Linked DNA regions of Homo sapiens. The protein of the gene in region 2 interacts with the protein of the main gene of each other region in a biochemical or structural test. Each region holds a gene or a part of one and is shown on either strand. Other genes may lie near its edges. The genes, in order: NEK2 and CSN2.

Region 1 (3,829 bases), on a different chromosome or scaffold from region 2:
TAGAGACGAAAAAGAAAAAAGTAACTCTAGAGTAAAATACAAGGCTATCGTATTAGGGCCATCACAGTTAAGGCCCAATAATATATAACTAGCAACTGATCTCAGAGAAAGATGTCCAACATGAAGGTGCCAGCAAGCCTGATTATTAAAAAGTCTAAAATACATATTTTGGTTTCTCAAGTATTTTTCAAAAGCTTCTAATAAGATCTGTATGTATAAAATATTCTGCTCAAAGAGATATTCAGACACATCAAAATAACCCACTTGGTAGTTCTCCTTTGCTTTGACCCCCATTCAGACTTACGCTCCAATCTTTCTTCTCTTGCTTTGAGAGCTCGCTCTCGCTCCTGTAACTGAATTTCCTTCAGTTTCAGCTCACTCAATACAGGGCTGGAATCCTGCGATTTTTCTGGCTCTCCTAATTGTCGCCCTCTTCTCTCAAGATTTCTTCTTTGCTCGTCTGCAACCAAATCTGCTATTAAAGGGTTCTCAAGAATTTCTTCAACAGAAGGTCGATGGTAATCCTGGGGAAAAAATACTCAGTATTATAGTCAGATTGCATAACAGAATAGTCCTCCTAAGACAGCAGTTAAAATAAAAGGACAAAAATGTGTTTCCAAGACAAAAGAAAGGACTCCTTTATGGCTAGGTCTTAAAAACTTGGAAAAATAAGTTCACTGGTGGTTTTAACTCATGAGGTTCTGGGTCCACAAGGTAATGCAGATGTTAACTTACCTTTTTTCCCTTTTCCCCTTTTCACCTTTCTAAGAAGGTTCAATCCCTGAAGATTGGCACATCTTGTGCTGGGGCTTGGTAGCATTGCTAGGGTCTGTTTTAGGGGAAGTACTGCCCTTGCATTTCTAAACTACATTTAGCAAGATACTCTCTCACTGACTCTCAATCCTGTCACTTCATCTGTATCCTTCTCTGTGATCCTACGGCATTTTCCTTCTTCTCTTATGTCAGCCTGGTCCCCAGAACATCTCCTTCCCCATTCTATAGCCAGAGTTTTTCCACATAATCTCTTTATTGATTTTCCCTCTGTTTTTAGCTGTCCTCCGTCCGCCCTCCATCACCCCTCCCCTTCTTCTGGTCTTTAATCTCTCAATTAGAGCTAGAGGCAGAGTAATAAACTCTTATTTCTGGCCCCTTCCCTCACTACCTGCCACTGTGAGGTAGGCAAGGACAAGGGGAACGAGAATTTGAATTCTTTTTGCAATCTTTCCTTGCTACCGACCATCTGTTAGCATGACAGAGTGGGAGGAGAAATAAAGAAAGCGCAGAAGGTGGGCCAGCAAGGATGTGCAATTTGCCAAATTTACATATGTTTTCACTTGTGTTAACACAGTAAATTTAGCTAAGAAAGTATATTTAACGTTTCTTCAGTCTCCATTGATCTACAAGAGAGAATGTATGCTCTGACACTTAACTGACAGCTAGAAACAGACAATATATCATCTTATCATCTTTACCTTTAAGTTTAACATCCTCGTAATAATTTCATTCAATTCATCAGAGTAACGGTATGGAATTCGCCTGAATTTGCCTTCTCTGATTTTCCCAGCGAGTTCTTTCTGGCTAAAAGCTGTAAATGGAGGCCTAGGGTTAAAAAAGAAGAAGAAGACGACGAAGACATTTTCAAATTGTAAAAATGAAAATATACAATAGGAACTAAATCAAAAGCACAGCTTAAGCTCCAGTTTGTATTTAAGTTTCTACTTCTGGGATTTTCTTCTTATAAGTAAGTTTCCCAACCTTGGCACTATTGACATTTGAGGTCATATAATTCTTTGTTGTGGGGGGCTGTCCTGTGCATTATAGGTATTTTGTAGCCTCCCTGCCCTCTACCCTCTAGATGCCAGAAGCACTCCCCAGCTGTGATAACTAAAAATTTATCCAAACATCATCAAATGCCCCATAAGAGGCAAATTTGCTTCCCTTATCCCTAGTTGAGAATCACTGCTCTACAGAATAGTTTCAAAGGGAAAGAAAATGAAAAGAAGAACAAAGGAAAAGAATTGGAGCTCTTCCCTGCTCTACAGATCCCCAGACCTCTACCCGAGTCTTGTTTCATTTCTTCCACATCCTTACAGTAGCTTTACCTTACCTGCCTGACCTATGTGCTCTCCCTTGAGCTAAGTGTCAATCTAATAAGAAAGCACCTAACCAGCCAAGACCCTTGAACAGTCAAGACCCAGCCTCATGGCTTATAGTTTTAATTTGTGAATAGTTTCTTTTAGCCTGTTCATCTATCTACCTTAATTTTACCCAGGGTACAATTCTTTCAGACTTGAATATACTTTCGTTAGCACAGAGGCTCAAAAAACTGAACCCAGTGAAATGTGACAAACAGTACAAACCTTAGACTAGGAATCTGTCTTCATCATACTTACATTAATGCACATAACTCATACAGCAAGCAGCCCAATGACCAGATATCTGATTTCTCATTGTAGGACATGCGATTCATTTGTTCCTATACAGGGAAAAAGGGTAAGAAAGTGGAAGGTGTTAAGAGTTTATTTTGTTTTGAAACTTAAAAAACACATTAAATTACTCCTGAGATAAAAACAGAACCTCAAAGTTTTTAGCTTATACTTTATCTTGAAATTTATAATGGAAAAAAGGCAATGATCTTGTTCCAATACACTCCATCATACATAATTCATTCACTCATTTTCCATTCACAAATGAAAGTGCTTAGTATAGACTAGGCACTGACAATACAGAGGTGAATATGAGAGACTTCTACTCTCAAGGCAAATTAAGAAACACCATTTTAAAAGAACTAGAGGAAATTTAAGAATAGTCAAAATATGTATCTAGTCCACATTTAAATGGATATAGACATAAATAGCTAATTGAATTATCCATTTATATTTTGTCTTAGTCCACTCCATAAATCACAGTAGTAACTAATATTATCCTTACCTATTTTATTGTTTGCCTTTCTTCCACATCTACAGTAACAACAGCCTACCAGAGCTCCTATTCTCAACAGAGGGAATAGAAGCAATCTCTAGTGGCTGGTTAGTGTTTTAAAGTCCAACTGGTGAGTCTGATGCCACTTTTTGACAATCAGTGCCTTAGGAAAGCTGAACCACTCTAATTACAAGGGCAGGAGGGAAAAGGAACAAAAGAATAGGTTTCAAATTTCCCAAGAACCACTTCTGGATAATTGTCCTTTATGTTAAAAACATTCTATTTGGAATTTGATACAGTGAGAAAATGGTACTGTTCTGGCTATTTTTAGTCAAAACCAAAATCATTAATTTACAAAGTTTTATACTATAGTAAGATCTGTTAACATAATTTATAAATATTTGGAAAATCCTAGAAAGGTGAACTACTAAAATACTAACAAATATTTCTTCATCTTTATCTGTTCAGATGTTATATACTAACACATTAGTGCTATCACAATTGACTTAAACTTTTTAAAAGCCATCAGACAATATCTAATAACAGCCATAAACATTTACCCCAGCAATTTCATTTTATGAGCTACACTCCAAGGAAATAACCAAAAAGGAAGAAAGAATAATTCATACAAAGATATGCAGAGCAGTACTTCTAAGAATGGTGAAACATGTTGGAAACAAAATATCCAGCAATAGAGGTAATTGGTGAGTGGACTCAGCAAGATATTTCAGGGATAGGCAACAAAAAAATAAAATGTACAAAAAGTTAACATTGTAAAAACATGCTATCTGAAGTGAGCAAACTTCCTGAGCTCTGATTCTGCATACACAAGAATCATTTACAGAGCCTCTTAAATGCAAAGTCTAAAATAAAAAGTAAAATATTAAAAAAAAAAAAAAACAGAGTT
Region 2 (3,829 bases):
CTTAAGGGAAGTGTTTAACTCTTATGATTCATTTGAAGTGATCATAATGTATCAATTGTTATTAGAATATATTTTCAATGAGTATTTCTTTTTTTAAAAATCAGATGGGGTTTTAGATATCATTTGTTGTCAGGGAATGAGCATGGTGGTAGAGAGAAATTAGCATCTATTAATTGCTTTTTTTTGTACCATGTCCTTCTTGACTGCATTCATCTGACTTTCTTTTACATAACAAGCTCATATAGAACAGTTTAATACATAAGTTTAATGATTATACAAAGTTATTAATGATATTATCAAAGAATTAATGCCTTTATTTCCTGATTTATATTGCAAAGTAAGAATTGTTAAAACTAAACCTAATTTTATTTTATATTTTTCTGTAGGAATCTATTACAGAATACAAGGTAAATTTTCACATTTAAAATGTACACATTTTCAAAATTTCCTCCTTTTAATCTTTACAGATGGTAACATATCTTTATATATGATATATCTTTAGCAGAAAGTTGAGAAGGTTAAACATGAGGACCAGCAGCAAGGAGAGGTAATTTGTTAATGATAAGTATATGTTTAAAATTATTATAAAGTATAATACATACAAAAATATTTATAATGTGTATGTTGATTCTAAAGAATGATAATAAAATAAATGCCATATACCCACCAACCACTTTAAAAATTAAACATTGATAAAGTCAATATATTTTCTAGGATATGCATGCATTTTTAAACTCATAATTAATTTCTAGAATACAGACTAAATACATAATGATATTACTAATGGTATATCTGTTTTCAACAAGTACACATTGGTGGGAACATTTCCAGGTTGGGAACTATGATCCTCTTATTTCCAAGGTGGATATGGTAATGAAAAGGTGTATACGGCTGGTAAAAAAACCTATGTAAAATTTGTCCCATATTGCCTTTATTCCCATATGGACAACACAAAATCCTGTATTTCATTAAATTACATTTATGGTGATATGTTTACCCAATTATAATTTTCAATTGCTTTGTGTACCAATGAATTGTTTGGAGTCACATAAAATATTTCTAAAATCAAATTTAAACAAAAAAATTGATGTCTCTTGAAAGACTCAAGAGACTATCTTCTCCCAAGGGAAGGAATGTAAGAATTTGGCCGGTGTTAAATTACTTCCTGAGATTAGCCACAAATTAAGACTGATTTTCTTTTTCATCAAACCAAAACAAAACAAAAATAAACCTTGGAATTGTCCCTCTAAGTCTTTTTAAACTGATCTCTTTTCACTGTATGAAAACAATTTGGTCTACTATTGGCACAACTGTGTTGAAAAGTAAATTCTCTCTGAAGACCAAAGTGTACAGCTACAGCTATCCAGGCAATTCAGGAAAATGTTAAAAAAAGTGTTTCTGAAATATCCAAACATTGATTTCACTTTGGCCTGTGGAGTTACCCATGAAGTGAGTGGATTAAAATTTTTCAACAAACAGTTTACTCATTTTTCTTCGCATGACTCAAGATACTTTCTTAACCAAAATAAGTGAAATATTTTCTCCTCTCTTTTTACTCATTTATCATTGTCTAAAAGAGAGAAATGAATTCATTATGAATGGCAATTATAGCTTAATCAAGGACTCAAAGATTCTTTTTCCTTCTTTCCAGGATGAACACCAGGATAAAATCTACCCCTCTTTCCAGCCACAGCCTCTGATCTATCCATTCGTTGAACCTATCCCCTATGGTTTTCTTCCACAAAACATTCTGCCTCTTGCTCAGCCTGCTGTGGTGCTGCCTGTCCCTCAGCCTGAAATAATGGAAGTCCCTAAAGCTAAAGACACTGTCTACACTAAGGGCAGAGTGATGCCTGTCCTTAAATCTCCAACGATACCCTTTTTTGACCCTCAAATCCCAAAACTCACTGATCTTGAAAATCTGCATCTTCCTCTGCCTCTGCTCCAGCCCTTGATGCAGCAGGTCCCTCAGCCTATTCCTCAGACTCTTGCACTTCCCCCTCAGCCCCTGTGGTCTGTTCCTCAGCCCAAAGTCCTGCCTATCCCCCAGCAAGTGGTGCCCTACCCTCAGAGAGCTGTGCCTGTTCAAGCCCTTCTGCTCAACCAAGAACTTCTACTTAACCCCACCCACCAGATCTACCCTGTGACTCAGCCACTTGCCCCAGTTCATAACCCCATTAGTGTAAGTCCAAATTTACTGGCTTTGCTGTTTCATTCAAGATGTGTATGTGATGGTAGAATAAAAGAATAAATGTAGAGTAAATGAATTAAAAAAACAGTTTAGATAAGTGATTCTTTTATTATTATACTTTAAGTTTTAGGGTACATGTGCACAACATGCAGGTTAGTTACATATGTATACATGTGCCATGTTGGTGTGCTGCACCCATTAACTCGTCATTTAACATTAGGTATATCTCCTAATGCTATCCCTACCCCCTACCCCCACCCCACGACAGGTCCAGGTGTGTGATGTTCCCCTTCCTGTGTCCATGTGTTCTCATAGATAAGTGATTCTTAATGCTTACCTATACAATAGAATCACCTGGAGAACTTTTCCCCACAAATCCCAATGCCTAAGCTTACCCAGAGATTCTGATATAATTGTTCTAGTTTTTTGTGTAGAGGAAACTGAGTGTTGAGAAAAAAACTATTGCATGAATTCTGGTTTAATTAGTCTGTTGAGAATTCTGATTTAGATAAAGTAATTAAGGCTTACAAAAGCCGGAATTAAATTTAATAATATGATTGAATTTGGAAAAAAAAGCTAAAAAATGTTCTGTCATTTTCCTTGTGCACATCTCTTTTACACAAGCCTTACTTCACATCTTGTTTTTGCTATAAGTATATATGAAGGCAAAAGACTGAGATGCTTATTTCACTACTTACAACATTCTTAAGGCAAGTTTTCTTACTAAGAGGTTATTTATTTATTTATTTATTTATTTATTTTACACAAGCCTTACTTCACATCTGGTTTTTGCTGTAAATATATATGAAGGCAAAAGACGGAGATGCTTATTTCACTACTTACAACATTCTTAAGGCAAGTTTTCTTACTAAGAGGTTATTTATTTATTTGTATCTGTTTATTTTTAAGGTCTAAGAAGATTTCAAAGTTAATTTTCCCTCCTTATTTTTGGTAAGTTTTGGGAGTTTGGAGATTTAATTGATCATTTTTATACATGATGTCTTTTTACATTTAATTCTCCTAGAGAAGTCCAATACAGTGAAAATTTCATACATACAAGAACTTTTTTTATTAATTATCAATTTAATGGTTGACTATCATTTACTGACCTGAAACTATCTATCTTTTGCATTTCAAATAACTTTAATTTTATTTATGTACTATTGACAGATTTGACTGGCTTGCTTTCAAGGGCCTATATACTTACATTTGATTATCACTATTTTTAGGAAAGACAGAATATATACTTATTTTACTTTTATGGAAATACATTTGAGCTTTTGTCAAAAGCCTATTTGCATTTTTATTTCTAACCTAGCCTTCATAAAATTTGTATTTACTTTACTTAAAATTATCTTTTAATTCATGAGTTAAAATTACTCCAAGTGTAAAGGTTAAAAAGAGGAGAGAACAGCATTGCAATTCTAAGATATAAAGCCTTTTGGGATTATGAAATACCAGACATTTCACTGAAACAATTTCAAGTTCACTAATATTTGATGAACTTTGGTGAAGTTTGGTGAACAAACTTTACATGCCTCCAAACCGCAACAGAATGCATTTGCAATACAATTTCTTTTGTGAATTAGTCACACCAAAGTTAAAAGTGAAGAGAGTTGAATAGTTACGTGTTATAAC

The links.
Region 1: of the proteins of CSN2 (region 2) and NEK2, one has a biochemical effect on the other in vitro, tested with the Homo sapiens proteins (one study listed by BioGRID).

Annotation. Positions count from the first base shown.
Region 1 is NC_000001.11:211,668,809-211,672,637, forward strand, and holds part of NEK2 (serine/threonine-protein kinase Nek2), read right to left. Parts: intron 2,477-3,829; coding exon 2,394-2,476; intron 1,600-2,393; coding exon 1,473-1,599; intron 525-1,472; coding exon 305-524; intron 1-304. UniProt on the Homo sapiens protein: Protein kinase which is involved in the control of centrosome separation and bipolar spindle formation in mitotic cells and chromatin condensation in meiotic cells.
Region 2 is NC_000004.12:69,955,627-69,959,455, reverse strand, and holds part of CSN2 (beta-casein isoform 1 precursor), read left to right. Parts: intron 1-386; coding exon 387-407; intron 408-502; coding exon 503-547; intron 548-1,651; coding exon 1,652-2,182; intron 2,183-3,100; coding exon 3,101-3,106; 3' UTR 3,107-3,142; intron 3,143-3,829. UniProt on the Homo sapiens protein: Important role in determination of the surface properties of the casein micelles.